Linked DNA regions of Homo sapiens. The protein of the gene in region 1 purifies or fractionates together with the protein of each later gene. This does not show direct contact. Each region holds a gene or a part of one and is shown on either strand. Other genes may lie near its edges. The genes, in order: SLC25A46, SCFD1, MTCH2, COX15, ADGRG5, CHCHD3 and DNAJC11.

Evidence for each region.
Region 2: the proteins of SLC25A46 (region 1) and SCFD1 fractionate together in Homo sapiens (co-fractionation; one large-scale study listed by BioGRID). This does not show direct contact.
Region 3: the proteins of SLC25A46 (region 1) and MTCH2 purify together in Homo sapiens (affinity purification with western blotting; one large-scale study listed by BioGRID). This does not show direct contact.
Region 4: the proteins of SLC25A46 (region 1) and COX15 purify together in Homo sapiens (affinity purification with mass spectrometry; one large-scale study listed by BioGRID and IntAct). This does not show direct contact.
Region 5: the proteins of SLC25A46 (region 1) and ADGRG5 purify together in Homo sapiens (co-immunoprecipitation; one large-scale study listed by IntAct). This does not show direct contact.
Region 6: the proteins of SLC25A46 (region 1) and CHCHD3 purify together in Homo sapiens (affinity purification with western blotting; one large-scale study listed by BioGRID). This does not show direct contact.
Region 7: the proteins of SLC25A46 (region 1) and DNAJC11 purify together in Homo sapiens (affinity purification with mass spectrometry, with the first as the bait; one large-scale study listed by BioGRID). This does not show direct contact.

The regions. Positions count from the first base shown.
Region 1 is NC_000005.10:110,763,007-110,765,657, forward strand, and holds the end of SLC25A46 (mitochondrial outer membrane protein SLC25A46), read left to right. Parts: 3' UTR 1-2,151; downstream 2,152-2,651. UniProt on the Homo sapiens protein: Transmembrane protein of the mitochondrial outer membrane that controls mitochondrial organization.
Region 2 is NC_000014.9:30,625,319-30,628,818, forward strand, and holds part of SCFD1 (sec1 family domain-containing protein 1), read left to right. Parts: intron 1-2,890; coding exon 2,891-2,961; intron 2,962-3,500. UniProt on the Homo sapiens protein: Plays a role in SNARE-pin assembly and Golgi-to-ER retrograde transport via its interaction with COG4. Involved in vesicular transport between the endoplasmic reticulum and the Golgi.
Region 3 is NC_000011.10:47,622,060-47,625,559, reverse strand, and holds part of MTCH2 (mitochondrial carrier homolog 2), read left to right. Parts: intron 1-2,783; coding exon 2,784-2,859; intron 2,860-3,500. UniProt on the Homo sapiens protein: Protein insertase that mediates insertion of transmembrane proteins into the mitochondrial outer membrane. Catalyzes insertion of proteins with alpha-helical transmembrane regions, such as signal-anchored, tail-anchored and multi-pass membrane proteins.
Region 4 is NC_000010.11:99,718,628-99,722,127, reverse strand, and holds part of COX15 (heme A synthase COX15), read left to right. Parts: intron 1-1,059; coding exon 1,060-1,141; intron 1,142-3,500. UniProt on the Homo sapiens protein: Catalyzes the second reaction in the biosynthesis of heme A, a prosthetic group of mitochondrial cytochrome c oxidase (CcO). Heme A is synthesized from heme B by two sequential enzymatic reactions catalyzed by heme O synthase (HOS) and heme A synthase (HAS).
Region 5 is NC_000016.10:57,549,143-57,552,642, forward strand, and holds part of ADGRG5 (adhesion G-protein coupled receptor G5 isoform 1 precursor), read left to right. Parts: intron 1-3,500. UniProt on the Homo sapiens protein: Orphan adhesion G-protein coupled receptor (aGPCR). Ligand binding causes a conformation change that triggers signaling via guanine nucleotide-binding proteins (G proteins) and modulates the activity of downstream effectors, such as adenylate cyclase.
Region 6 is NC_000007.14:132,795,591-132,799,090, reverse strand, and holds part of CHCHD3 (MICOS complex subunit MIC19), read left to right. Parts: intron 1-2,513; coding exon 2,514-2,649; intron 2,650-3,500. UniProt on the Homo sapiens protein: Component of the MICOS complex, a large protein complex of the mitochondrial inner membrane that plays crucial roles in the maintenance of crista junctions, inner membrane architecture, and formation of contact sites to the outer membrane.
Region 7 is NC_000001.11:6,695,317-6,698,816, reverse strand, and holds part of DNAJC11 (dnaJ homolog subfamily C member 11), read left to right. Parts: intron 1-3,500.

The DNA.
Region 1 (2,651 bases):
TACATTTGTACATTTCAACATATAATAAGCAAAAAAATTACTAATCAGTTTAATAAAAACATTTTGTCTATTCCTAAATGTAATTTGGTGGGTTAAGCACTTTGTGTAGTAAAATGATATGTGTCTGCTCTATCATTAGACATTTTAAAGTTTCATGTCTTCACGTGAATAATCACAGTTGTATCATGAACCATTTAGCGCTCTGAAGCACAGTGACTTTGCACTGATATTGTCCAACCAAGAATGCATACGAATAGAAATTCATTTTACTTGCTAAATGTCACAGAAATGGTTACTTTTTGCAAATAGTAGTGTTGGAACAAAAAAGTGATATCCAAAAAGTGTAAAAACAGTAATAAGTAGCAAATCTCTCGTGTGTGTGTGTGTGTAGTTACTGAAACACCTACATTTTCCATTTTTAAATTCCACCAAAAGGGGGAAAATAAAATTAAACACCACTGATCACATTTTATATTTTATGGTGACTATTTTAGATTAAGGTTTACTTTGTCCAACCAATAGCATTTAAATTGTTTTCAATTAGGATAGTTTCAGATAAGAGTAAACCAGAAAATTTCAAGTTTGAAAAATTTCTAGAAAAGAATCTGAATAGAATCAAGTATTTACTAGTGAAAATCTGTAGGATCCTTTGTTTAGCTAAAAATTAAATATTTCAGGATATTTTTTGGAAGTTAGCATGAAAATAGTTAGTTACATAAATTCATTTTATTGTAGAATAATTATAAGACTGATAGGCTGAACCATACACAAATAAGGTTGATCTTGTTTTCCTTTTTGGAGAAAGAGAATACAAATTAACATTAAAATTGAAATGTAGAAAGTAAAATATGAATAATTTTTTACAACCACTCCAAATTAGTTGAAACAAAATCTTGAACGGTCACGCACTTAAATTTAAGCTAGCCAAATATGTTGCACTGAATTTTGAAAAGAATGAGTGAGATAACTGTAAGATACGCTCGTTCCCTTTTAAAAATTGTTATTTTTCTTTAACATGGGTGCCAAATCAAATATCCATGGGCTATACTTCTTAAGATAATAACAGCTCAAAATAATATTTTTTAATTCAGTAGAACTAATAGCATTATGGAAAAGATTCTATTAAATGTTCCACAGGCCCACTGGTCCTCTTATATAAGCCAAATTTTGGCCATGGAGCTTGTGATACACTTGCCTTACATTGTAGGGTTTCTTAATTTGAGTCAAGTACACTGAAAGCAATTAAAAACTGGTAAATATTAATTTACTATGTAAAGTGAACTTACGAATTAACTTACTAAATACATATATGTAGACCTTCCCGAAATGCCATTCTCAATTTTATTTTATGGGCTCCAAAAAAAATTATCTGGGTTAATAAGGTTATCTATTAAAGCCCCCAGAATCTCAGCACTAGATGTCATAAATATGAAATAGTAAAAACAAGGTCACTTGAAAATGGGTATTTAATACCTTAGCTGGTGTTTTCAGAAGCATACAGAACTGGAAAGGTAAGAACTTGCTTACTATTGCAGATATACCTGACCACTCACAACTGTCTTTTTAGCAGCAGCTTTGTTAAAACTGCACAAAGCATTCACTTTATTGATTGAGTACAAATGCTTTAGTGTTTCTACCTAAGTATTAGTACATCTGTTCAGGAAATGGAAAAAAAAAATGCTGCTTAAATTTGTTTTATCAGCTGAGGTTGTGGAGGATTTTTGTCCACTGATCTTTTGCAACAGAAAAGCATACTTTGTCAGCTTCTAATAAGATAGCCAGGTTTGAATTATTTGCAAAATTTATATAAGCAAATAAGATCTCTTGGTAACAATTGACATTGCACTAGAATTTGAATGATACTGTTGTTGGCATTTCTGTTTCTCTTTCAAGTAGTTGTAAATAATCTCTTTTTCTCATATAAACGGAATGCATAATGTCTTACTCTTGAGTCATTTAGTATCATTGATATGGTACCAAGTTGTATAGCAGAGTAACAAAATCATGATTTGACAATGAAATTTACATATTGCCTCACCTAGAGATGTTTTGTCTGTATGACTTTTTTTTTTTTAAGTTTGTCTTACTGTTACTTTAAATGTTTTGGGTAAATTGTGTAATATGAAAAGTTCAATAAAATGTCGAAATAAAGCCACTGTTTTTCTCCTACTGATGTGAGAGAACTATTCAGGCTGGTGGTTAAAGATGAAGTATATTTTTTTAGGTAGAAAGGAAGATCAACAAAATATGTGAAGTTAAACTTTTTTGCACACTATTTTTTAAAATCTCTATAGCCTCCTCACCACATCCCTATGACATTTTTGGAGTTGTGCTGTTTGATTAAGAATAAAATAGATACAGAGAGGAGGTGATTTGTCCTGCATTTCACAACTAGGAGAGTAACAACAGAAAAATGACAAATAGGCAGCTCCAGACTCCCATCCCTCCATGGAAAGAGAAGAAAACAACCAGAAACTGTCAGAACCAACTTTGTCAGACTCTGGAAAACAGTCAAAAGTTTACAGCAACTATGTGAATGTTAAATCAAGAAAAAGGCAACTTATTGTTAGGAAAGCTTTGTGGCTTTGACTTACCTTGGCTCCTGTCTTCTCTGTGGTTCAGTGGCATGGCAGTCTTAAAAATGGCAGCTT
Region 2 (3,500 bases), on another chromosome or scaffold:
TGTTTTTGATTTTGGAATATTTGCATTATTACTGGTTGAGCATCCCAAATTTCAAAATCCGAGCACCAGCTTAAAAAATTTTGATTTTGGAGCATTTCAGGTTTCAGATATTAAGACTTGGGATGCTCAACCTGTAGTATATTTAGAGCCAATAAGAAAAATGGTTTGTCATTTCAGATAAAGTCATGGTTTAAGCCTTGGGTAAACTCTGATAAAAGTAAAATTACGTTCTTGTAAACTCTGAACACAGGCCGTGTACTCCATTAACAAATCCTTTTTGTTATAGGTATAGGTATACCTATATAGGTATAGGTATATAGGCATATAGGTATACCTATATAGGTATAGGTATATAGGCATATAGGTATACCTATATAGGTATAGGTATATAGGTATATAGGTATATAGGTATATCAATAGGTATATTGATATAGGTAAAAGGTATATCAAAATACCTTTTAATAAGTTAGCCAAGGCTCAAAGTTGGAGAAAATCTCAGACTGGGCTGAGAAGGCGAATGTAGGATTATCTTATTTGCTGCTGCTGGCCTCTTTCAGTTAGCTAAGGCCTAACTGTGCAGCATACTAAACACCTGAGGCTCACATGGCAGCTCAGGCTTTCGTTCTTCCAAGTTGTCAGGCTTCAAGAGTGTGAACAGCTGTTCCCAGAAACAGGGTTTCCTCCCTCTTGGGCGTGAGTGCCAGGGTGGTGGTGTCTTTATTGCCTGGAGGTGGAGGAAGAGCTCTGCAAATGCACAGTGGGAGAGTTAATCCTGAAACCCCCTCCGTGCTTCCTGTGTTATTTCAGTTTTAAGTGTTAAACTGTTTTTTTGTTTATATTAAATATATTTAATATTATAAATACATTAAATAAAATACATTTTTATTTAATGTAAAACCTGTGGGCCTCTGAAGTAGGTAATATTGGTAATGTGTATTTTTGGCTGGACATTAGGTAATAACATTTTACCAAAAATTATGTCTGTAGGTGTATGGTAAATACACCTGATAGCAATAACTTAAGCGTGCCCTGAGAATGACCCTGTATTGCAGACACACCTGGATATGTGTTTCAAGCTAGGGAATCAAAATGGCCCACCTGGAGATTCATTCCTTGTCTGTGAGGAACATCTGAGCCCCCAGCCCATCCAGTGAAACATAGGCCATGCAGTGGATCAAGGCCCCGAGTTTTGGGTTGAATGAAGGTTGCCAGGTGGAGGTTGTTAGGGAAATGTTAAGTGAAAATGCTGTATAAACCACATTTTTGCTATATAAACCACTTTTTGCATGCAGTTATGGTTCTCCTGCCCAGCGCATTGCCACTGAGTATACAGTTCTCCTGTCCAGCCCACTGTCACTGGACTCTCCTATGTGTGTTGCCCCCATTAAAACCCTGTGTCTCATTTCCTGGCTCCGGGTCTCTTCTTAGGCCTCTCAAACATGGGTATCTTCCCCACTGGAGGCAATAAGGGTTCGGCACAACAGTATGTACACACACATAAGTATGCAAATGTATCACTGAAGTACAATCTGTTCAGTAATAGCAGTTTTAACAGCATTATACCTACCTCAGCAAGCAAGCATTTAATAGAAGTTTTTCTTGTGAGTGAATGAATATGCTGTAAGTTGATATTCAGGTGATTTTAGTATTACATAGTTCTCTCGTAGGACTTTGGAGTATAGGTTATTCTGTATTACTTAAAGCCTGATGCAAATGTTTTTAACAATCAACCAAGTGGATTTTAAGGCTGTCAATTTTATAAAAATTAAATCAAGAAATTACAACTAGTATACTCTCTTGAATATTTGGCCATCTCAGTTTCACGAAGAAGTATATTAAGGGATTTTCATTTTCTGTAACACTGTTACAGATGAGTGATAAATAACACAAAATACTGTAACAGACCCGTAACTGTGATTTTTGATGTTGTATATTTGCTTAGCTGGAATTATCAGTTATCTACTATATGGGAAAGTCTGTTTTCCCAAGGGACATAGAATTTTAAGCAACTTTTCGGTGAATCTGACAGGATAAATTGTTTGTAAAATATACTCTTACATAACTATAGACAGATCTGTATGAAGGTTTTGTATATGAACCAATTGAATATGCCATGGATAATTTTGTTTTTAGAAAGACTGATCCAGGCCGGGCGTGGTGGCTCACGCCTGTAATCCCAGCACTTTGGGAGGCCAAGGCGGGTGGATCACCTGAGGTCGGGAGTTCTAGACCAGCCTGACCAACACGGAGAAACCTCATCTCTACTAGAAATACAAAATTAGCCGGGCATGGCAGCGCATGCCTGTAATCCCAGCTACTCGGGAGGCTGAAGCAGAACTGCTTGAACCTGGGAGGCAGAGGTTGTGGTGAGCCGAGATCACGCCATTGCACTCCAGCCTGGGCAACAAGAGCGAAACTCTGTCTCAGAAAAAAAAAAAAAAAAAAAAAAGAAAGACTGATCTTTCTCACTAGGCCACTCACACTTAAAAAAAAAAACAGACAGACAGACTGATCCTTCTCACTAGACCACTCAGACTTAAAAAAAAAAAAAAAAAAGACTTACCTTAATCTATGCTTTCAGCCAGACAGTACACAGGCAACAGCATCAGTATATTGAGGCCATTGCAAGTTCTTCCTGAACATTTCCCGCGATTTCATCTGTGGACAGATGCTTATTGTGTTTTGGGAAATCTCCCAAATACATGTCAATTAGCTGTCGATGGAATAGTCTTACAAGATCTGACCCCTAGTTCTACACATATAGTCATTTGGTTAATCAGTTTTACTAGAGTTGATTAGTTTATTTTGCTTTGGGGTAGTGAATGATGATGGAGGAAAAATAAAATCCTAAAAAACAATGACAATATTTGATAAAACTTTTTATTTTCAGTGGCTTTGAAGCGTATGTTGAATTTCAATGTGCCTCATATTAAAAACAGCACAGGAGAACCAGTATGGAAGGTAAGAGTTTATCTTAATGGGAACTGATTTCTGTTTTTCTCAGCCCTTATTGGTGGTAATTGGAGGGAATTTATTGTAATATGGAAGAAGTAACACATATTAGTTATCATGAATGTTTTATCCTTATTTAACATGATCTCTTAATATGAATTGTTTTGACAGACATTCTATGGAGTGAGACAAGTGATAAAATAGTAATTTTCATCTAGGGAGTCCAGTTGATCTCTTTGGTAGGATGTCACTGATAGGTCTTTTTCCTGGTTGATATTTTGTTCCTTAGCTTTTCAAGTCCAGACTTTGGATTTTATAAGCTTGCTCGGAGTTAGTCACATTCAGAGGGCCTGGATTATTTTAACAAACTCATGAGAAAATGATCTGTAAACTGTAATACCACTTTAATAATTTATGAGATATAAAACTTAATTGAACCAGAAAGCAATCTACAATCTTTTCCTTTGAGAAATACTGGAGAGCCTTTAAAAATTCCAATTCTTTAGGCTTCTTCATTTTAAACTTCATGCAGACTCTCTTTCTTCAGA
Region 3 (3,500 bases), on another chromosome or scaffold:
TTTTTTAAAAAGGGGGGGAGGAAAAGTATAATTGATACCATTAGAAGATTCCTAATTTTTTTCTTTGTATGCCCTATGCAGCAGCAGCCTCAATTTGTATTTATTTATTAATTATTATTATTATTTTTTTTTTTTTTGAGATGGAGTCTTGCTATGTTGCCCAGGCTGGAGTGCAGTAGCATGATCTCGGCTCACTGCGACCTCCACCTCCTGGATTCAAGTGATTGTCCCGCCTCAGCCTCCTGAGTAGCTGGGATTACAGGCATTCGCCACCATGCCCAGCTAATATTTTTGTATTTTTGGTAGAGACAGGGTTTCACCATGTTGGCCAGGCTGGTCTCGAACTCCTGACCTCAAGTGATCCACCCGCCTCAGTCTCCCAAAGTGCTGGGATTACAGGCATGAACCACCATGCCAGGCCAATTACTATTATTATTTATAGTTTTTGTTTTTGTTTTTGTTTTTGTTTTTTGAGACAGAATCTCACTCTGTCACCCAGGCTGGAGTGCAGTGGTGCAGTCTCGCTCCATTGCAACAGACACCTCCTGGATTCAAGCAGTTCTCATGCCTCAGCTTCCCAAGAAGTTGTGATTACAGGCATGTGCCACCATGCTGGGCTAATTTTTGCATTTTTAGTAGAGATGGGGTCTTGCTATGTTGGCCAGACTGGTCCTGAACTCCTGACCTCCGGTGATCTGCCTACCTCGGACTTCCAAAGCGCTGGAATTAAAGGCGTGAGCCACTGCACCTGGCCTATTTTTATTTATTTTTAATTTTTTTAGAGATAGGGCTGCAATGTGGTGGTGAAGTCCTAGCTCACTGCAGCCTTGAACTCCTGAGCTCAAGGGATCCTCCCATCTCAGCTTCCCAAGTAGTTGGGAGTACATGTGCATGCCACCATGCCTGGCTAATTATTTTTTGTGAAGACACAGGGTCTCACTTTGTTGCCCAGGCTGTTCTTAAATTTCTAGGCTCAAGTGATTCTCCTTCCTCAGCCTCTTAAAGTGCTGGGATTACAGGGGTGAGCCACCATGCCCAGCCAACATATTGTTATTTTAAATCTTTATCTTTTCTATGAAAGTGACAAAAGGTATATCAGGGATTAAATGACAATCCATACCTGTTTTTCCTAGGGGCTTTATGGAGAAAGTGAGTTTTAAAGAACCAGAATTAGGATATTTAGTCTATGGAAAGTTTGATGACCTTTTCTCTGTATTGGTTAGAAGGGCAGGTTTTGGTATAGTGGTAGACTCCATTGATTTCCAAATTCTAGATGCCAAGTGACTCTACTGAGTTGGGCAAAATTTTGCCTTTTTTTTTTTTTTTTTGAGATGGAGTCTCACTCTGTTGCCCAGGCTATAGTGCAGTGGTGCAATCTCGACTCACTGCAACCTCCACCTCCCAGGTTCAAGCAATTCTCCTGCCTCAGCCTCCTGAGTAGCTGGGATTACAGGTGCCCACCAGCATGCCTGGCTAATTTTTTGTATTTTTTTGTTGTTGTTATTGTTGAGACAGAGTCTTGCTCTGTTGCTCAGGCTGGATTGTGGTGGCGCGATCTTGGTTCACTGCATCCTCCACCTCCTGGGTTCAAGTACTTCTCCTGCCTCAGCCTCCAGAGTAGCTGGGATTATAGGCACTTGCCACCACCCCCGGCTAATTTCTGTATTTCTAGTAGAGACAGTGTTTCACCATGTTGGCCAGGCTGGTCTCGAACTCCTGACCTCAAGTGGTCCACCCTCCTCGACCTCCTAAAGTGCTGGGATTACAGGCGTGAGCCACTGCACCCAGCCTTGCCTTTTTTGTTTAATTCAAAATTCTTTTCCCATATGGTACCTGACATATCATTAAACATGTTACTGTTTTCAAATAAGATCAGATAGCTATGTGGAGTTTTGAACATTTTACATTGTTTGTTTTCTGGTTTTGTTTGTTTCATGTTACTCCTGGCAAGCTGTGATGTTTTCTGATACGTAGAGCAACTGCCATTTTTTAGCACAGTGTAAACTTGAAGGATGAATTAAATGTATTATTATTATTTACAGTTTTTTCAAGATGAAGTGATTATACCTAAGTAGGAACATATATATCTACTGTTTATATCCGTTTTCATGTTTAGTATCTTTGTGAACACCAGTTAGTTTTTAAATCTCCTTTCCCTGCTCTTTTTTTTTTTTTTTTTTTTTAAAAAAAGACTGGTTCTTACTCTGTCACCCAGGCTGGAGTGCAGTAGTGCAATCTTGGCTCACTGCAACTTCCGCCTCCTGGGTTGAAGCAATTCACATGCCTTAGCCTCCCAAGTAGCCGGGATTACAGGCATGCGCCACCATGCCAGCTCATGTTTTTGTATTTTCAGTAGAGATGGGGTTTCACCATGTTGGCCAGGCTGGTCTTGAACTCCTGACCTCAAATGATCCACCTGCCTTGGCCTCCCAAAGTGCTGGAATTACAGGTGTGAGCCACCGTGCCCGGCCACCTTTCCCTGCTCTTTAATCATGTAAATGCTGTGTTCTGGAGTTTCATTTGTCCACAAAGGAAAAGTCTAAATGTTTTAGAAATTAAGGTTGAAGTTTATGTTTATTTATTTATTTGAAACCTAAATATAGGGGAGGAATTCTCTTTTGGATGCTTGATCGTTCCCCTGCTTCAATATGATTTGTTTCATTGAACTAAAATGATCTCTCAGGGAATCTTCTGTGCAGCAGAATATTTTGACAAGGTTTATCAACGTCTCAAGAGAATGGTTAATATTAACATGAATAGCTCCATGTTTTTTTCTATTTTAGTCTTGCTGGTGGATGCCCTCCTTACTCCCCAATATATACGTCTTGGATAGACTGTTGGTGCATGCTACAAAAAGAGGTATTTCTTTTTCTCTGTCTCTCTCATTTTATTTTGTTTTATTTTTATTTATTTGTTTTCTTAAATATTGTCTCTGGAATCCCAAGTTAACTCTTGTAGCTCACTTTAGCTAGAGTTAGTCTAGTCTGCCAGTTAATGTACACTTTACAGTGTTCTGTGTTTTCACTTTGGCATAATAGTAAAATGTGATGTTTAGAAATCATGAGCAGGAGTAATGAAGAAGAAAGAATCCCTAGATGAGACCTAGAAGCCATTTGAGTGCCCACATTCAACTTACAAATACGATCCAGGTAGATTATTATCCTGGTAAAATGATGGCCTTGATTTTAGACTCTTTTTTTCCCCCAAACTCACCTTTCATAACCACTTATTTGTCACAGTGGTATTGACAGAGCTGGTCTTATACTTCTAGAGTCTTGTTAGTGGATGATTTTGCCTAGATACCAATTTAGGGTTTGTTATTACTATGAGGTGTATAATCTGCAACAAAAAATTATTTATTATCTAGGCAAAGCTTTATTGGAAAATAAAATAATGGGCTGGGTGCAGTGGCTCACGCTTATAATTCTAGCACTTCGAGAGGTCTAGGTGGGCAAATTGCTTGAGCCTAGGAGTTTGAGACCAGTTGAGGCAACATGATG
Region 4 (3,500 bases), on another chromosome or scaffold:
TTGGGAGGCTGAGGCGGGTGGATCATTTGAGGTCAGGAGTTTGAGACCAGCCTGGCCAACATAGTGAAACCCCCATCTCTACTAAAAGTTAAAAAATTAGCTGGGCAATAGTGGCGCGCACCTGTAATCCCAGCTACTTGGGAGGCTGAGGCAGGAGAATCGCTTGAGCCTGGGAGGTGGAGGTTGCAGTGAGCCAAGATTGTGCCACTGCACTCCAGTCTGGGCGACAAAGTGAGAAAAAAAATTTTTTTAATTAAATAAAATTTATTTACATAAGCTTTTTGTTTATTTAAACTTTATATTTAAATAAAATTAATTTTTTATTTAATTTTCAGTCATACTAGCCACATGTTTCAAGCTCTCCTTAGGTAGATGATAGAACTTTTCCATCACAGAAAGTTCTATTGGACAGTGCTGATATACTGTCCTATAATATGTTAGTAATGATACCTAACTTTTCATATAGTAGAGTGTAAGCCATTTGAGGGTGGCATAGTCACCTGTTTATAAAGTTCTTATTCATATTTGATGATTCACTTATTAGTATTAGAAGTTGGTAATAAGAATAAAAACAAATTTTGATTTTATCAAAAACACTAAATGGAGGAATCTCTAAGCACTTTATGCAATTTTGATTCTGACTATATTTGCTAAACACTAATATCACACACATGAAAATCCAGTCCTGATCTTAAGCTACATCCTTTCAACCGTGATGAAGCATTGTTTCCTGAATAATGGAAATCATTCAGTTTTTGAACAGATGCGTAATGAGTACCTATGTGCCAATCACTAGGCTAAGATTGCTCTAGTAAAAAAGATGGCAGTTCCTGCCTTCACAAAACTTATGGGGTAGAAGGGAAAACAGATAGTAATCTATAATTATAATAAAATACAGTACATGTTGGAACAGAATATCTGCCAGGAGTACTTAACCTAGTCTAGGGGTCAGAGAAGATCTGATCTTAATTTGTCACTTGGGTTTGGCCTTAGAGATCTTTGCTGCCTCTCATTGTTCCTGCAACACAGTTTAACTGAATGATTTTTTTTCATATTTAGTTGCCTGAAACCCACCAACTCCTACAGTTGAGACGATTTGCTCATGGAACAGCAGGTCTGGTGTTCCTTACGGCCCTCTCAGGTAGGACTCAGCTCATCAAAGATGACCTGTTTGCATTGCACTCTAAGCTGGGACCTCTTGCCTAATGCTTTGCCCCTTCCTCCTGCATCTTTATATTTCCTTTTCACATCTGTTTCTCTCATTCCCCCATCTTCACCCTGTTTCCTGTTCCTTTCTCTCTTCCAAAAATTCTACTTTACTGTCAATTGAACAAAAATATTGAACATCTACCTAGATCCAGATGGCCTAGGTTCAAATCCTGGCTTCACTACCTGTGAACTATATGACCTTTGCAAGCTCTGTAACCTCTCTGGGCCTTAGAGACCTTATCTATAAAATGGAGATTACGACAACAGTATGACTGCTAAATGTGAAATGTGTAGCATCGTTGTTGGCATGTAGCAAAGGCTACATAAGTGTTAGCTGTTACTATATATAAACATTGTTATCATCACATTACATCAACATGGGTCAGAGAAAAGGCTTGCCCTCAGAGATGGTTGCAGGTGGAGAGTTCATTGGCACAGAGAGACCAACACAGGATTTTTTCATTCTTTTTTTTGAGACTGAGTCTCACTCTGTTGCCCAGGCTGGAGTGCAGTGGCATGATCTCAGCTCACTGCAACCTCTGCCTCCCTAAATCCAAGCGATTCTCGTGCCTCAGCCTCCCGAGTAGCTAAGACTACAGGTGCACACCACCACGCCCAGCTGATTTTTGTATTTTTAGTAGAGATGGGGTTTCACCATGTTGGCCAGGCTGGCCTCGAACTTCTGACCTCAGGTGATCCACCCGCCTTAGCCTCCCAAAGTGCTGGGATTACAGGCATGAGCTACCATGCCTGGCCGTTTTCATTCTTTAACCCACACTTCCACCACTGCTGCTCTCATTCTAGAACTGCACTATCCAGTAGAGGAGCCTGTAGCCTCATGTGGATATTTAAACTTAAATTAATTAAGGTTAAATAAAATTTAAAATTTAGTTCTTCAGTCACACTAGCAACATTTCAGATGCTCCACAGGCACATGTGGCTAGGGGCTAGTATATTGGTTGGCACAAATATAGAATACTTCCACTCTCACAGAAAGTTCTATTGATAGTACTGCTCTGGACTAAAAATAATATTGATTCAAACCAATGAGCCACTCAACACTTTTATTTTTGGCATAAGAGCATGAATTTTTACTTCATAAGGGACATTTAAAAAAAATATGGAGTGGGTTGGGCATGGTGGCTCACACCTGTAATTCCAGCACTTTGGGATGCTGAGGCAGGTAGATTGCTTGAGCCAGGGAGTTCAAGACCAGCCTGGGCAACATGGTGAAACCTCGTCTCTACAAAAAATACAAAAATTAGCCATGTGTGGTGGTATTCACCTGTAGTCTCAGCTACTCAGGGGGCTGAGGCGGGAGGATTGCTTGAGCCCAGGAGGTCGAGGCTGCAGTGAGCGGAGATTGCGCTGCTGCACTCCAGCCTGGGTGACAGAGCAAGACCCTGACTCAAAAAAAGAAAAAAAGGCCAGGCATGGTGGCTTATGCCTGTAATCCCAGCACTTTGGGAGGCCGAGGCAGGCGGATCACCTGAGGTTGGGAGTTCGAGACCAGCCTGGTCAACGTGGTGAAACCTCGTCTCTACCAAAGGGCGCACCTATAGTCCCAGCTACTCGGGAGGCTGAGGCAGAAGAATTGCATGAACCCTGGAGGCAGAGGTTGCAGTGAGCCGAGATCATGCCACTGCACTCCAGCCTGGGGGACAGAGCCAGACTGCGTCTCAAAAAAAAAAAGAAAGAAAAAAGCGAGTGTGACCCAAACATTTCTGGATTTTCTTTGATAATAAATAATGGATCAGACATCCATTAATTCATGAATACCCTCTTTATTTGTTTATCCAGGATTTAGTTTATAAGTTTTGGGATTTTTCTCACTTCCGTATTCAGTCAACAAACATTTATTGAGCATTTGGGGAAGACAGATAACGCACAATAGAAACATAATGTGCTAGATGATATTTAGTGCCATGAAGAAAAATAAATTAGGGTCAGGAGACAGAAAGTGGGCTAGGATCATCAAGCGAAATCTCTTTGGTAAGGTGACATCTGAGTGGAAGCTGAGGAAATAAGGGAGTCAGTCATGCAGACATCTGTGGGAGAGCATTTCTAAAATAAATCAGTAGCACTCAGTGGCGGGGTGAGGAGGGCATCAAAATCACTAAGGGAATTTTTCTAAGCTAATAAGCCTCTCCCCCTCCCCCCACACCACAGCCTCTACTCCACTTCTCTAGAGGAAGCAGAATCTTGGGGTGGGAGCAGGTAAGGATGCAGAGATTTGAAGTTTCCTTGGTGATTGTGATGTATCTTCTCTGTTGGAGAACTCCTGTTGCAGA
Region 5 (3,500 bases), on another chromosome or scaffold:
CCTGGCTTGCCCTATTCTTTCCATAGGATAAATTCATAAGAATGAGTTTCCTGGCTTAAAGGATATTCAGAACGTAAAGTTCGAATGTGTTGCTAAGCCGTCCCCTTGCAGATGAGGCTCAGATCTTAGACAGAGAGTGCAGGAATGTGCCTGTCCCTACAGACTCACTGGGTGCTATCATATTTCAGATCTTTGCAGATCCAATGGTGGAAAAATGAGAACTCATGTTCTTAACTACTTTCCTCTGCCACTACCATCAAACACATATTTTGAGTTTTGTGGCTCTCCCTCTTGAAGCCTTGCAAGTTTTTGTTGACTTCCTTTCTCTAAGAGGAGGATCATCAGTTCTCTTGCCCTCCCTCCCCTATTTCCTCTTCTTCATCCTCTTAATATGTTTTTTGATTGGATTTCTAAAGTCTTGTCTATAGAGGTATACATACAATAAAATTCACCCTTTTGGAGAGGAGTTTTTGCATTTTGACAGATGTGTACAGTCATGTATACATGTATATTACAATCAAAATATAGAACATTGCTGTCCCCTGAAAAGTTGTCTCAGGCCCTTTTGTAGTTAATATCTTTTCCCTACTCCCTGGCAACTACTGATTTGTTCTCTGATCCAATAGTTTTGACTTTTCTAGATTCCACTTCCATGTTACATTCCCTCCAGAAATGAATGAGGCTTCCAGCTGTTCTATATCCTCATAATACTTTGTATTACCATTTTAATCCTAGTCATTCTAGAAGGTGTGTAGTGATATCTGATTGTGGTTTTTATATGCATTTCTCTAATGACTAATGATATTGAGTGTTTCTCATGTGCTTATTTGCATCTATACATTTTTTTTTTTAACATGTAGTTCCAGCTCTGTCACCCAGGCTGAAATGCAGTGGCATGATCTCAGCTCACTGCAGCCTCCTCCTCCTGGGTTGAAGCAATTCTCCTGCCTTAGACTCTTGAGCAGCTAGGATTACAGGCACATGCTACCACACCTGGCTAATTGTTGTATTTTTAGTAGAGACAGGGGTTTCACCATGTTGGCCAGGCTGGTTTCAAACTCCTGACCTTGGGTGACCCACCCGCCTCGGCCTCCCAAAGTGCTGGGATTACAGGCATGAGCCACCGCGCCCGGCCCATCTATATACATCTTCATTGGTATAGTGATTGTTCAAATCTTTTCCTATATTTATTGGGTTGTTTGTCCTCTTATTAGTTGTGTAAGAGTTCTTTATGTAGTCCAGATACAATTTTTTAAAAACATCAGATATGTGTTTGTAAATATTTTCTCCCAGTCTGTGGCTTATCTTCTCGTTTTGCTAACCATGACTTTCAAAAAGCAGAAGTTTTAATTTTGATGAAATTCAACTTATCAGTTTTTTGTTGTTGTTGTTGCCATGGATCACGTTTTTGGTGTTGTTTCTAAGAAATCTTTGCATAACCTAAGTCAGAAGGATTTTCTTTTTTGTTTTTTCCAAGGAGTTTTACAGGCATATCTTGGAGATATTGTGGGTTTGGTTTTAGACCACCACAGTAAAGCAAATATGGTAATAAAGTGAGTCACACAAATTGTTTGGTTTCCCAGTGCATATAAAAGTGATGCTTACGGCCAGGCACGGTGGCTCATGTCTGTAATCCCAGCACTTTGGGAGGCCGAGGCGGGCGGATCATGAGGTCAGGAGATCGAGACCATCCTGGCCAACATGGTGAAACCCCATCTCTACTAAAAATACAAAAATTAGCCGAGCATGGTGGTGTGTGCCTGTAATCCCATCTACTTGGGAGGCTGAGGCAGGAGAATCACTTGAACCTGTGAGGTGGAGGCGGAGGTTGCAGTGAGCTGAGATCGCACCACTGCATTCCAGCCTGGGCAACAGAGCGAGACTGTCTCACACATGAAAAAAGTTATGTTTACATTATACTGTAGTCTATTTAGTGTACAAAAGCATTATGTCTAAAAATGTACATACCTTAGTTAAAGGACACTTTATTGCTAAAAAGTACTAGCAATCTATCTGAGCCTTCAACAAATCACACGCTTTTTTGCTGGTGGAAAGTCTTGCCTTGATGCTGATCAAGGTGGTGGTGGTTGAAGGTTGGGGTGGCTGGCTGTTTCTTAAGACAGCAGTGAAGTTTGCCACATCAGTTGACTCTTCCTTTCATAAGATGTTTTTCTGTAGCATGTGATGCTGTTTGATAGTATTTTACTCACGGTAGAGCTTCATTCAAAATTGGAGTCCGTCCTCTCAAACCCTGCAGGGGCTTTATCCACTACATTTATTTAATATTCTAAATCTTTTGTTGTCATTTCCACAGTGTTCACCATATCTTCACCAGGAGTAGATTCCATTTCAAAAAACCACTCATTGTTCATCTATGAGAAGCGACTCCCCATCCATTCAAGTTTGATCATGAGACTGCAGCAATTCAGTCACATCTTCAGGATCCACTACTAATTCTAGTTCTCTTGCTATTCTAATCACATCTGTAATTACTTTCCCCACTGAAGTTTTGAACCCCTCAAAGTCGTCCATGAAGCATGGAATCAACCTCTTCCAAACTCCTGTTAATGTTGATATTTTGACTTCTTCCCATGAATCACAATCACATGTTCTTGCAGCATCTAGAAGGGTGAATCTTTTCCAGATTTTCAATTTACTTTGCCCTGATCCATCAGAGAAATCACTATCTATGACAGCTATAGCCTTATGAAATTTGTTTCCTAAATAATAAGACTTGAAGGTCGAAATGACTCCTTGATCCATGGGCTGCAGAATGGATGTTGTGTTAGCAGCACGAGAACAACATTGATCTCCTTGTGCATCTCCATCAGAGCTCTTGGGTGACTAGGTACATTGTCGATGAGCAGAAATATTTTGAAATAAATCTTTTTTTTTTTTTGAGTAGTAGGTCTTAACAGTGGGTTTAAAATATTCAGGAAACTATGCTATAAATAGATTGCTATCATCCAGGCTTTGTTATTCCATTTGTAGAGCACAGGCAGAATAGATTTAGCATAACTCTTAAGAGACCTAGGATTTTCAGGATGTTAAATGAGTATTGGCTTCCATTGAAAGTCACCAGCTGCATTACCCGCTAACAAGGGAGTTAGCCTGTCCTTTGAAGCTTTGAAACCAGGCATTGATTTCTTCTCTCTGGCTATGAAACTCTTAGATGGCATCCGCTTCCAATATGAGGCTCTTTCATCTACACTGAAATTCTGTTGTTTAATGTGGCCACCCTCATGCATGATGTTAGCTAGTTCTTGTGGATAACTTGCTTCTCCATCAGCACTTGCTGTTTCACTTTGTACTGCTATGTCATGGAGATGGCTTTTTTCCTGAAACCTCATGAACCAACCTCTGCTAGCTTCCACGTTTTTTCAGCTTCCTCACCCACCTTGGCCTTCATAGAATTGAAGAGTTAGGGCCTTGCTCTGAACTAGGCTTTGGCTTAAGGGAACGTTGGCCGGGGGCTGGTTTGATCTTCTATCCAGATCACT
Region 6 (3,500 bases), on another chromosome or scaffold:
GATTGAAGTGTGTACAAAAAGAATTTCAGAGGATGACTGCACACACACACACACACACACACACACACACACACACACACACAGAACAGATCACCAAACAGGAAATCAAGAGCCCTGGAAGTGAGTAGTATTGATTTGTGGTGATAAAAGTATATTTTGACACATTTCAAATCATAAATAACGCATGGACTTTAACTTGCATGACTAATAGCTCAACCCAGGATACATGCTTATCTACAACTTAAACTACCTCTTTCTAAGGAGTCCATAACATGAGGTGAATTATCCCATCGTGAGTAGACTTTTTAAAGGAAAAAATAAACTGTCTTCTTTATGACATGCAGTGTGTGGATGCTCATTTTTACAGTCTTTTCCCGTATGTTAATGAGGAAGGGCTGCATATCTGGTCAGGGTTGTTCTAGCCTTCCCTCCTCACCTCCTTCCCCCTGCTTTTAAATCTGAGACACATTGGAGACACGATCAGTTGTCAACACTAGGATAGAATGTAACCTTGCTTTCCTATGAGCTATTAGTCATTAGTCATGTATTTGCTAGGTTCAGCTGATCTGATGCTTAATCATATTTTATTCGATATTTATCTAGATGCAGGTCTTGCTATAATTAGTCACTTAGTGGTATCTGTGCCTATACTCTTTGAAGCACGGCTGATTCCTTTTAAATCCTGATGTTCGTGGTAAAGGATTAGGGAAATCTGTGTCCAGAAAAATTCACAGACATCTGAAGTTTGAAATCTTAAAGCATGGAAACTCCTGGGATTCTATTTAATTCTGTTCTTAGGTATTTGACAAAGCAGTAAGGTAATGAATGAAAAAGTAAAAGTGATGTTATAGAAAAATTGTTGAAACATTTTTTTTTCTCTGTATGTCTGTGTTCTTTAGAGGATAGTAGGAAGTCAGGGAACCACCAACATGCTTTGCATTTCTATTCTAGTAAAATATATATTAGCTTAGTGTACTGGATAAAAATAATGAGACAAATCATCACCCAGGCGTTTCCTTATTGATGAGAAATATTCCCCCTGTGTTCTCTAGGGGTTTTGTTTGAACCCATTAAATTTAAAATAATGTGATTTCAAGATTACTATGGAAATAACAAATTTAAATTTCAAAAATAGAAGTGATAAGACTGGAAGCTTCTTGTATTAAGACTAATTTGAAAAAACACGAATTTCAAGATTAAAAGTAGTAATATTGTGCTTTTTTTCTCTGTATGTATTTAATCCTTGCAGTCCAAACTTCCCTGCCGTATTAATCAGAATATTTTACCTTCATTCGTATAACTCATTTGGTTCATTATCATTTTTCAAGCATATATTATAAGGTTTTTGGAAACATTTACATTTGGTCTCACATATTCACAGAAGCAATCTGACTAAAATCTGAGATTTGTAAGTATAAGTAGCAAAATTTTAACCCAGGGGACTTTAAAATGTTTTCTTTGCACCGATTTGTATTCATTCAGTAAATGTATTACATGACTTCTGTAGGGTTCCGATGTCTAATAGCTGAGGTAACAAAGAAAATAAGTCACAGTCCTTGGAATTTACATTCTAGTAAATGTAGGTTGCTAAATTGTATTAGACTATGGTGTAGTCAGTGTCACATGCATGGCAAGAAAAGTGAATACGGGACCAATGGGGTCACCATAAAGGGAATGATAGACTGTACCAGGGTTGGGGGGTGGAGAGCTAATGAAAGCTGACACTTGAGTGAAGTATCAAAGGATGAGTAGGTTTTTTCCAGATATAGAGGCATAGGTGGGAGTTTGGGCGTAGAGCATTTCCAGAAGCAAGAGCAGCATGAGCTTAGACTTGAAGAGAAGTGTAAGAACGAAACCCTGAATTGGGTTTGTCCAGGCTTCAGCTGTGTGCAGGGTTGGGGGGTGAAGGCCACAGAGTAGGCAGGAACCTGGTCAAGAAGGACCAGCCAGCTGGCCTTGTATTTTGTGTAGAAAGTGCTGGGAAAAGAGACCATCTTCGATTTCCTATGGGAAAGAACCCTCTGGAAGGTGTGTGCAGGCAGGAGTAGAGGGTGTCAAAGCTGAGAGACCAGCTGGGAGGTTGTTTCTTGAATTCAGGATGTGGCTCACTTGGAAGCAATGTAACGACAGTGAGTGTGGAGCAGGAGGACCAGGCCGTAGGGATCTCCAACTTTGTGACCAAGTGGATATGGGAATGGAAGAGAGAACTTAGGGCTTCCAAGTTTCTGGCATGTTGATATGGTTTCGGTTTGGAAGGGATGGTTATATTGTCCAGACTAACTCACAGTAGTGTCAATTAGTGGAACTAATTTCTTAGAATTTATTTACCCTTTGTCATTTTTATCATGGGAAAAATTTAGCTATCTTTGAAGTTTAAGGAAAATTCTTTCTCTTAAACCTTTTTCTACATTTGCAACATCTGTGTCTTACTGTGCGTTTTATGTGTTCTTTAACCTTGATTTTTATTCTGAATGAAGACCATTGGTCTCAGCGGTCCCTGTGTTTGTTTTCAGGCGATATGAGTCTCATCCAGTCTGTGCTGATCTGCAGGCCAAAATTCTTCAGTGTTACCGTGAGAACACCCACCAGACCCTCAAATGCTCCGCTCTGGCCACCCAGTATATGCACTGTGTCAATCATGCCAAACAGGTAGGTGTGCCAGCCAGGCCACTGGGGGCACTGGGCAAATTGAAAACTGGATGACCTGGGGCAGTGGTAAGGACTAAATGGGCCACTGTGTGTGAAAAAGCTTTCTAAGCCCTAGTCATCATCATCAAGAATTACTGTAATGAGTTGATTAGGGCATAACTTGTGTCCGATCATTGTCAAAGAGCCCATATCTTCCTTATGTACAACTCATTTACTTGCAGAAAAAAGGATTCTACTACAATTATACTTTTTTCCACTTGCCCTGAACTTTTGTCTTCTAATAATAATGTTCCCAAGGTCATTCCTCATACTTTTAGGCCAATATTTAGAGCTAGCGAAGAGGATACAGATTAAGAGCTGGCACCTTTGGGCCCATAAGCCGTAGGTAGGCAGAGGGCCAGGTTAAAAAAAAAACAAAACACCACCGTTCAGTCACTGTCCAACGCTTCCACCAGTTGATAGAGTTCACTTAGTTGGACAGGGAAAGGGAAACCAGAGATAGCATTTTAAAAAGAATTTCCACTGCTTTTATAGACCATAGCCATATTCTTCTCTTGACCCTTCATATCAGAACAATATGATGTTCACAGGACGTGCATTTTCTCTAATTTATGTACTTTAGAAAGCTAATGATAAACCCTGAAGCAAATTATCAATTCTGGCAGGTCACATAATTGCCTATCATTTAACCAATTTAACAGTTGGATATGGTTGTTCTGAGAGGCAGAAATTGTTGGAAACGTTGATTCCTTCTGCTGACAAACTCCATAGATTTGACCTTCTAACCCAACTAAATCTAGTGTTTAAGTTACACAGCATGCCTTTCTGCAGTCTAATTTGATGTAGTTATA
Region 7 (3,500 bases), on another chromosome or scaffold:
GCACACACCACCACAGCTGGCTGATTTTTGTAGTTTTTGTAGAGACAGGGTCTCACTGTGTTGCCCAGGCTGGTCTCAAACTCCTGAGCTCAAGCAGTCCACCCATCTCAGCCTCCCAAAGTGCTGGGATTACAGGCATGAGCCACTGCACCCAGCCAAAAAATATTTCTTAAATTTTTTTTTTTTTTTTACTTCTCCCAATGAGTGAAGGCACTTTCCATATTTATGGCTATATGGCTATAGGTTAAATCCATATGAAACATGCTCCCTTGCAGAAGTCACTTTCTGTTGTCTTCGTCAGCAAACTCGGTGTTAAATGTCATACTCAGGTGTGGTGTGCTGGTTTTCCATCCCGGGATTCCATTAGAAGCTCTGAAGGTGATGTCTGAACTTGATATTTGCTGGAATTTTTTGTGTGAAATCAAACGTGAAGTTGAAATAACGTGATTTAGTTGGAAAAAAGTCAGAGTAATCTTAAATCTTAATGTGTGGTTGGAAGAATATCTTAATACCTGTTTGTGTGTTTGCTGTCAGTTCTAGAGTAGTTGCCATTTAAGTATAGCTGTGAGAGGCAAGGCCCTGTTCCCACTGATACTTCAAAGTACCTTCAAAAGAGTGTCCTCAAAACTCTCAATGTTCAGTAGAGTTCAGAGAGTTTTCTTTAGAAATCTCAAATGGAAACAATTCTAGACAAAACCAGGGAATCCTACTTTAAAATTATAAGCATAGGCTGGGCGCGTGGCTCAAGCCTGTAATCCCAGCACTTTGGGAGGCCAAGACGGGCGGATCACGAGGTCAGGAGATGGAGACCATCCTGACTAACACGGTGAAACCCCGTCTGTACTAAAAATACAAAAAATTAGCCGGGCGTGGTGGCGGGCGCCTGTAGGAGGCTGAGGCAGGAGAATGGTGTGAACCCAGGAGGCGGAGCTTGCAGTGAGCCGAGATTGCGCCACTGCACTCCAGCCTGGGTGACAGAGCAAGACTCTGTCTCAAAAAAAAAAAAATTATAAGCATAATAGAGGTATATAATTGGATTAATATAGAAATGTCAACAATCAGCTGAAGAATCTCCCTCTCCAGGATTTAAACTTTAAAATATCCCCTTAAATTTGTATTCTAGAGCAGGGGTCCTCAACCCCCTGGCCATGGACCAGTACTGGTCTGTGGCTTGTTAGGAATTGGGCCGCACAGCAGGAGGTGAGTGGTGGGCAAGCAAGCGGTTAGCGTCGGGCAAGCAAGCGGTTAGCATCGGGCAAGCAAGCATCACCGCCTGAGCTCTGCCTGTCAGATTGGTGGTGGCATTAGCTTCTCATAGGAGCATGAACCCTATTGGGAACTGCACATGCAAGGGATCTAGGTTAGGTCCTCTTTATGAGAATTTGACTAATGCCTGATGATCCCAGGTGGAACAGTTTCATTCCACTCCCACTAGTCTGTGGAAAAATTATCTTCCATGAAACCAGTCCGTGGTGCTAAAAGGTTGGAGACCCCATTGTTGCCGCCGTTGGAGAGAGTGAAGCAGGCAGCTGGAAAGGACCCCCCGTTCTCCTATGACAAGACACATGATCTTTAATGATTCTCCTTCTAGATTTCCTGTTTACAGAGCAGGGCCATCATCTGTCGTGCCTGCCTCACACTGAGAGGAGGGAGTACTTTATCACTCACTGGGCACACCAAAGCCAGACAGGTTTTCTGGTTTAGTGTTAGATGCATCATCTGGTTCCTAAAATCTCACTCCTCTGAGATTTCCAGGATGATTTTCCAAAATTTATTTGGAGAAAGGATTCCTTAACTATAAATCAGAGTTAAATTTACCTGATCCATTAATTAGGAAATTTAATTGACACATTTCAAACCTAATTTATTCCCAAGACAAATGGCTACAGTTCTAACTTTATCATTGTCTTTGAAAGAATTTCATTTTTGCAGTGTTTGTAACCTGTTTGAAGACCTCTGGTCCCAATTGTTTTAACCTTAAGGAGCCATCCTCCTTTTCAACTTTTAAACACTTTTGGAAAAACACAGTTAAGTAAAAAATGAAGTTGTTAATAAATAGTTTTTTTCTTGCAGTCCATATATGGAGGTCAGTGTTCTGAGATCTTCATCCTTCCAGAACAGCCATGAAACTAGAAGTACAAAAGTATCACCTACCAGTAAAAAGTTTACCCCAAGTCCCTGCATTTTCATTCCTTCTCTGGTACAGGGTAGATCATTATTTTCACAATTGTGTGTTGTTGGGGTTTCCTTAGCTGCAGGTTACAGCCACAGAGTGAGGCCCAACAGTTGAGTTTGAGCTGCAGATGGAAAGGAAGGGCTAGAAGAGTAGAGGAAGGTCCCCTGGTCACTGGCAAGATTGTCCTAGGGTCAAAGTCACCCACAAAGAAGGAGACAGCAGACCCTCCAATCAGGACCACTGACTCAGCCATCTGCAGAAATTGACATGTAAAAGGCTCAACTGTGCCAATTTGAGCGACTCAAATACCTAAAGCAGTGAGGTGGTGTGTGTTTACACATTTATTGCTTTCTTATCAAACTTCATGATGGGCAGTTAATTTTGTCTTAATAAAAAATAAAGATGGCTCTGAAAAGGTCAGTTCCTTCATTTTCCATCTACTACATTATGTTAAAGTTTGATATTTATAATGACTCCAGTTAAATGTGTGCCTCAGGCACATAGAATTAAGCCTCGGTTGTCCAAAAACAACTTATTCAGATGTCTGCATTCCATAGGGTGTTCTGTAAGCCAAGAGGCTGAGAAGCAAGAATTTCAGCCCATGCTGCCTGCCTCTTGTGTGACCTTCAACGAGTCATTTAACCTCAGCCTCTACTTACCTGCAGAATGGAGGCACCAGTACTTCTTAGTTAACAATGGGATAGAGGGAGGCCACTATGTAGGGCTTTGCAGCTGGAGTCCAGTATTCAAATCCCATTTTACTCTTCTGGAAGTTCTATGCTTCAACGCTAGTAATTTAACCTTTCTGTTTCTCAATTTCTTTTTTTTTTTTTGAGATGGAGTCTCACACTGTCACCCTGGCTGGAGTGCAATGGCGCAATCTCAGCTCACTGCAACCTCCACCTCCTAGGTTCATGCAATTCTCCTGCCTCAGCCTCCCAAGTAGCTGGGATTACAGGCACACACCAGTACACCCGGCTAATTTTTTTTTTTTTTTTTTTTTTTTTTTTTTTAGTAGAGATAGGGTTTCACTATGTTGGCCAGACTGGTCTCAAACTCCTGACGTCGTGATCCATCCGCCTCGGCCTCCCAAAGTGCTGGGATTACAGGCATGAGCCACTGCACCTGGCCATCAGTTTCTTTAATGTTAGAATGTAGGTAACAGGTAATAATGGCTTAAGCACTTACTGTAGGCCAGGATGACCTGTGTGGTATGTGCGTTGCTAGGTGCTGAGAATGTATATAAATTGCCTGTCATAAGTAGGTATTTAGTTAATATATATTGTTATTTCTTGGATTTTGATAAGTTTGAAGTTTTGCTTAC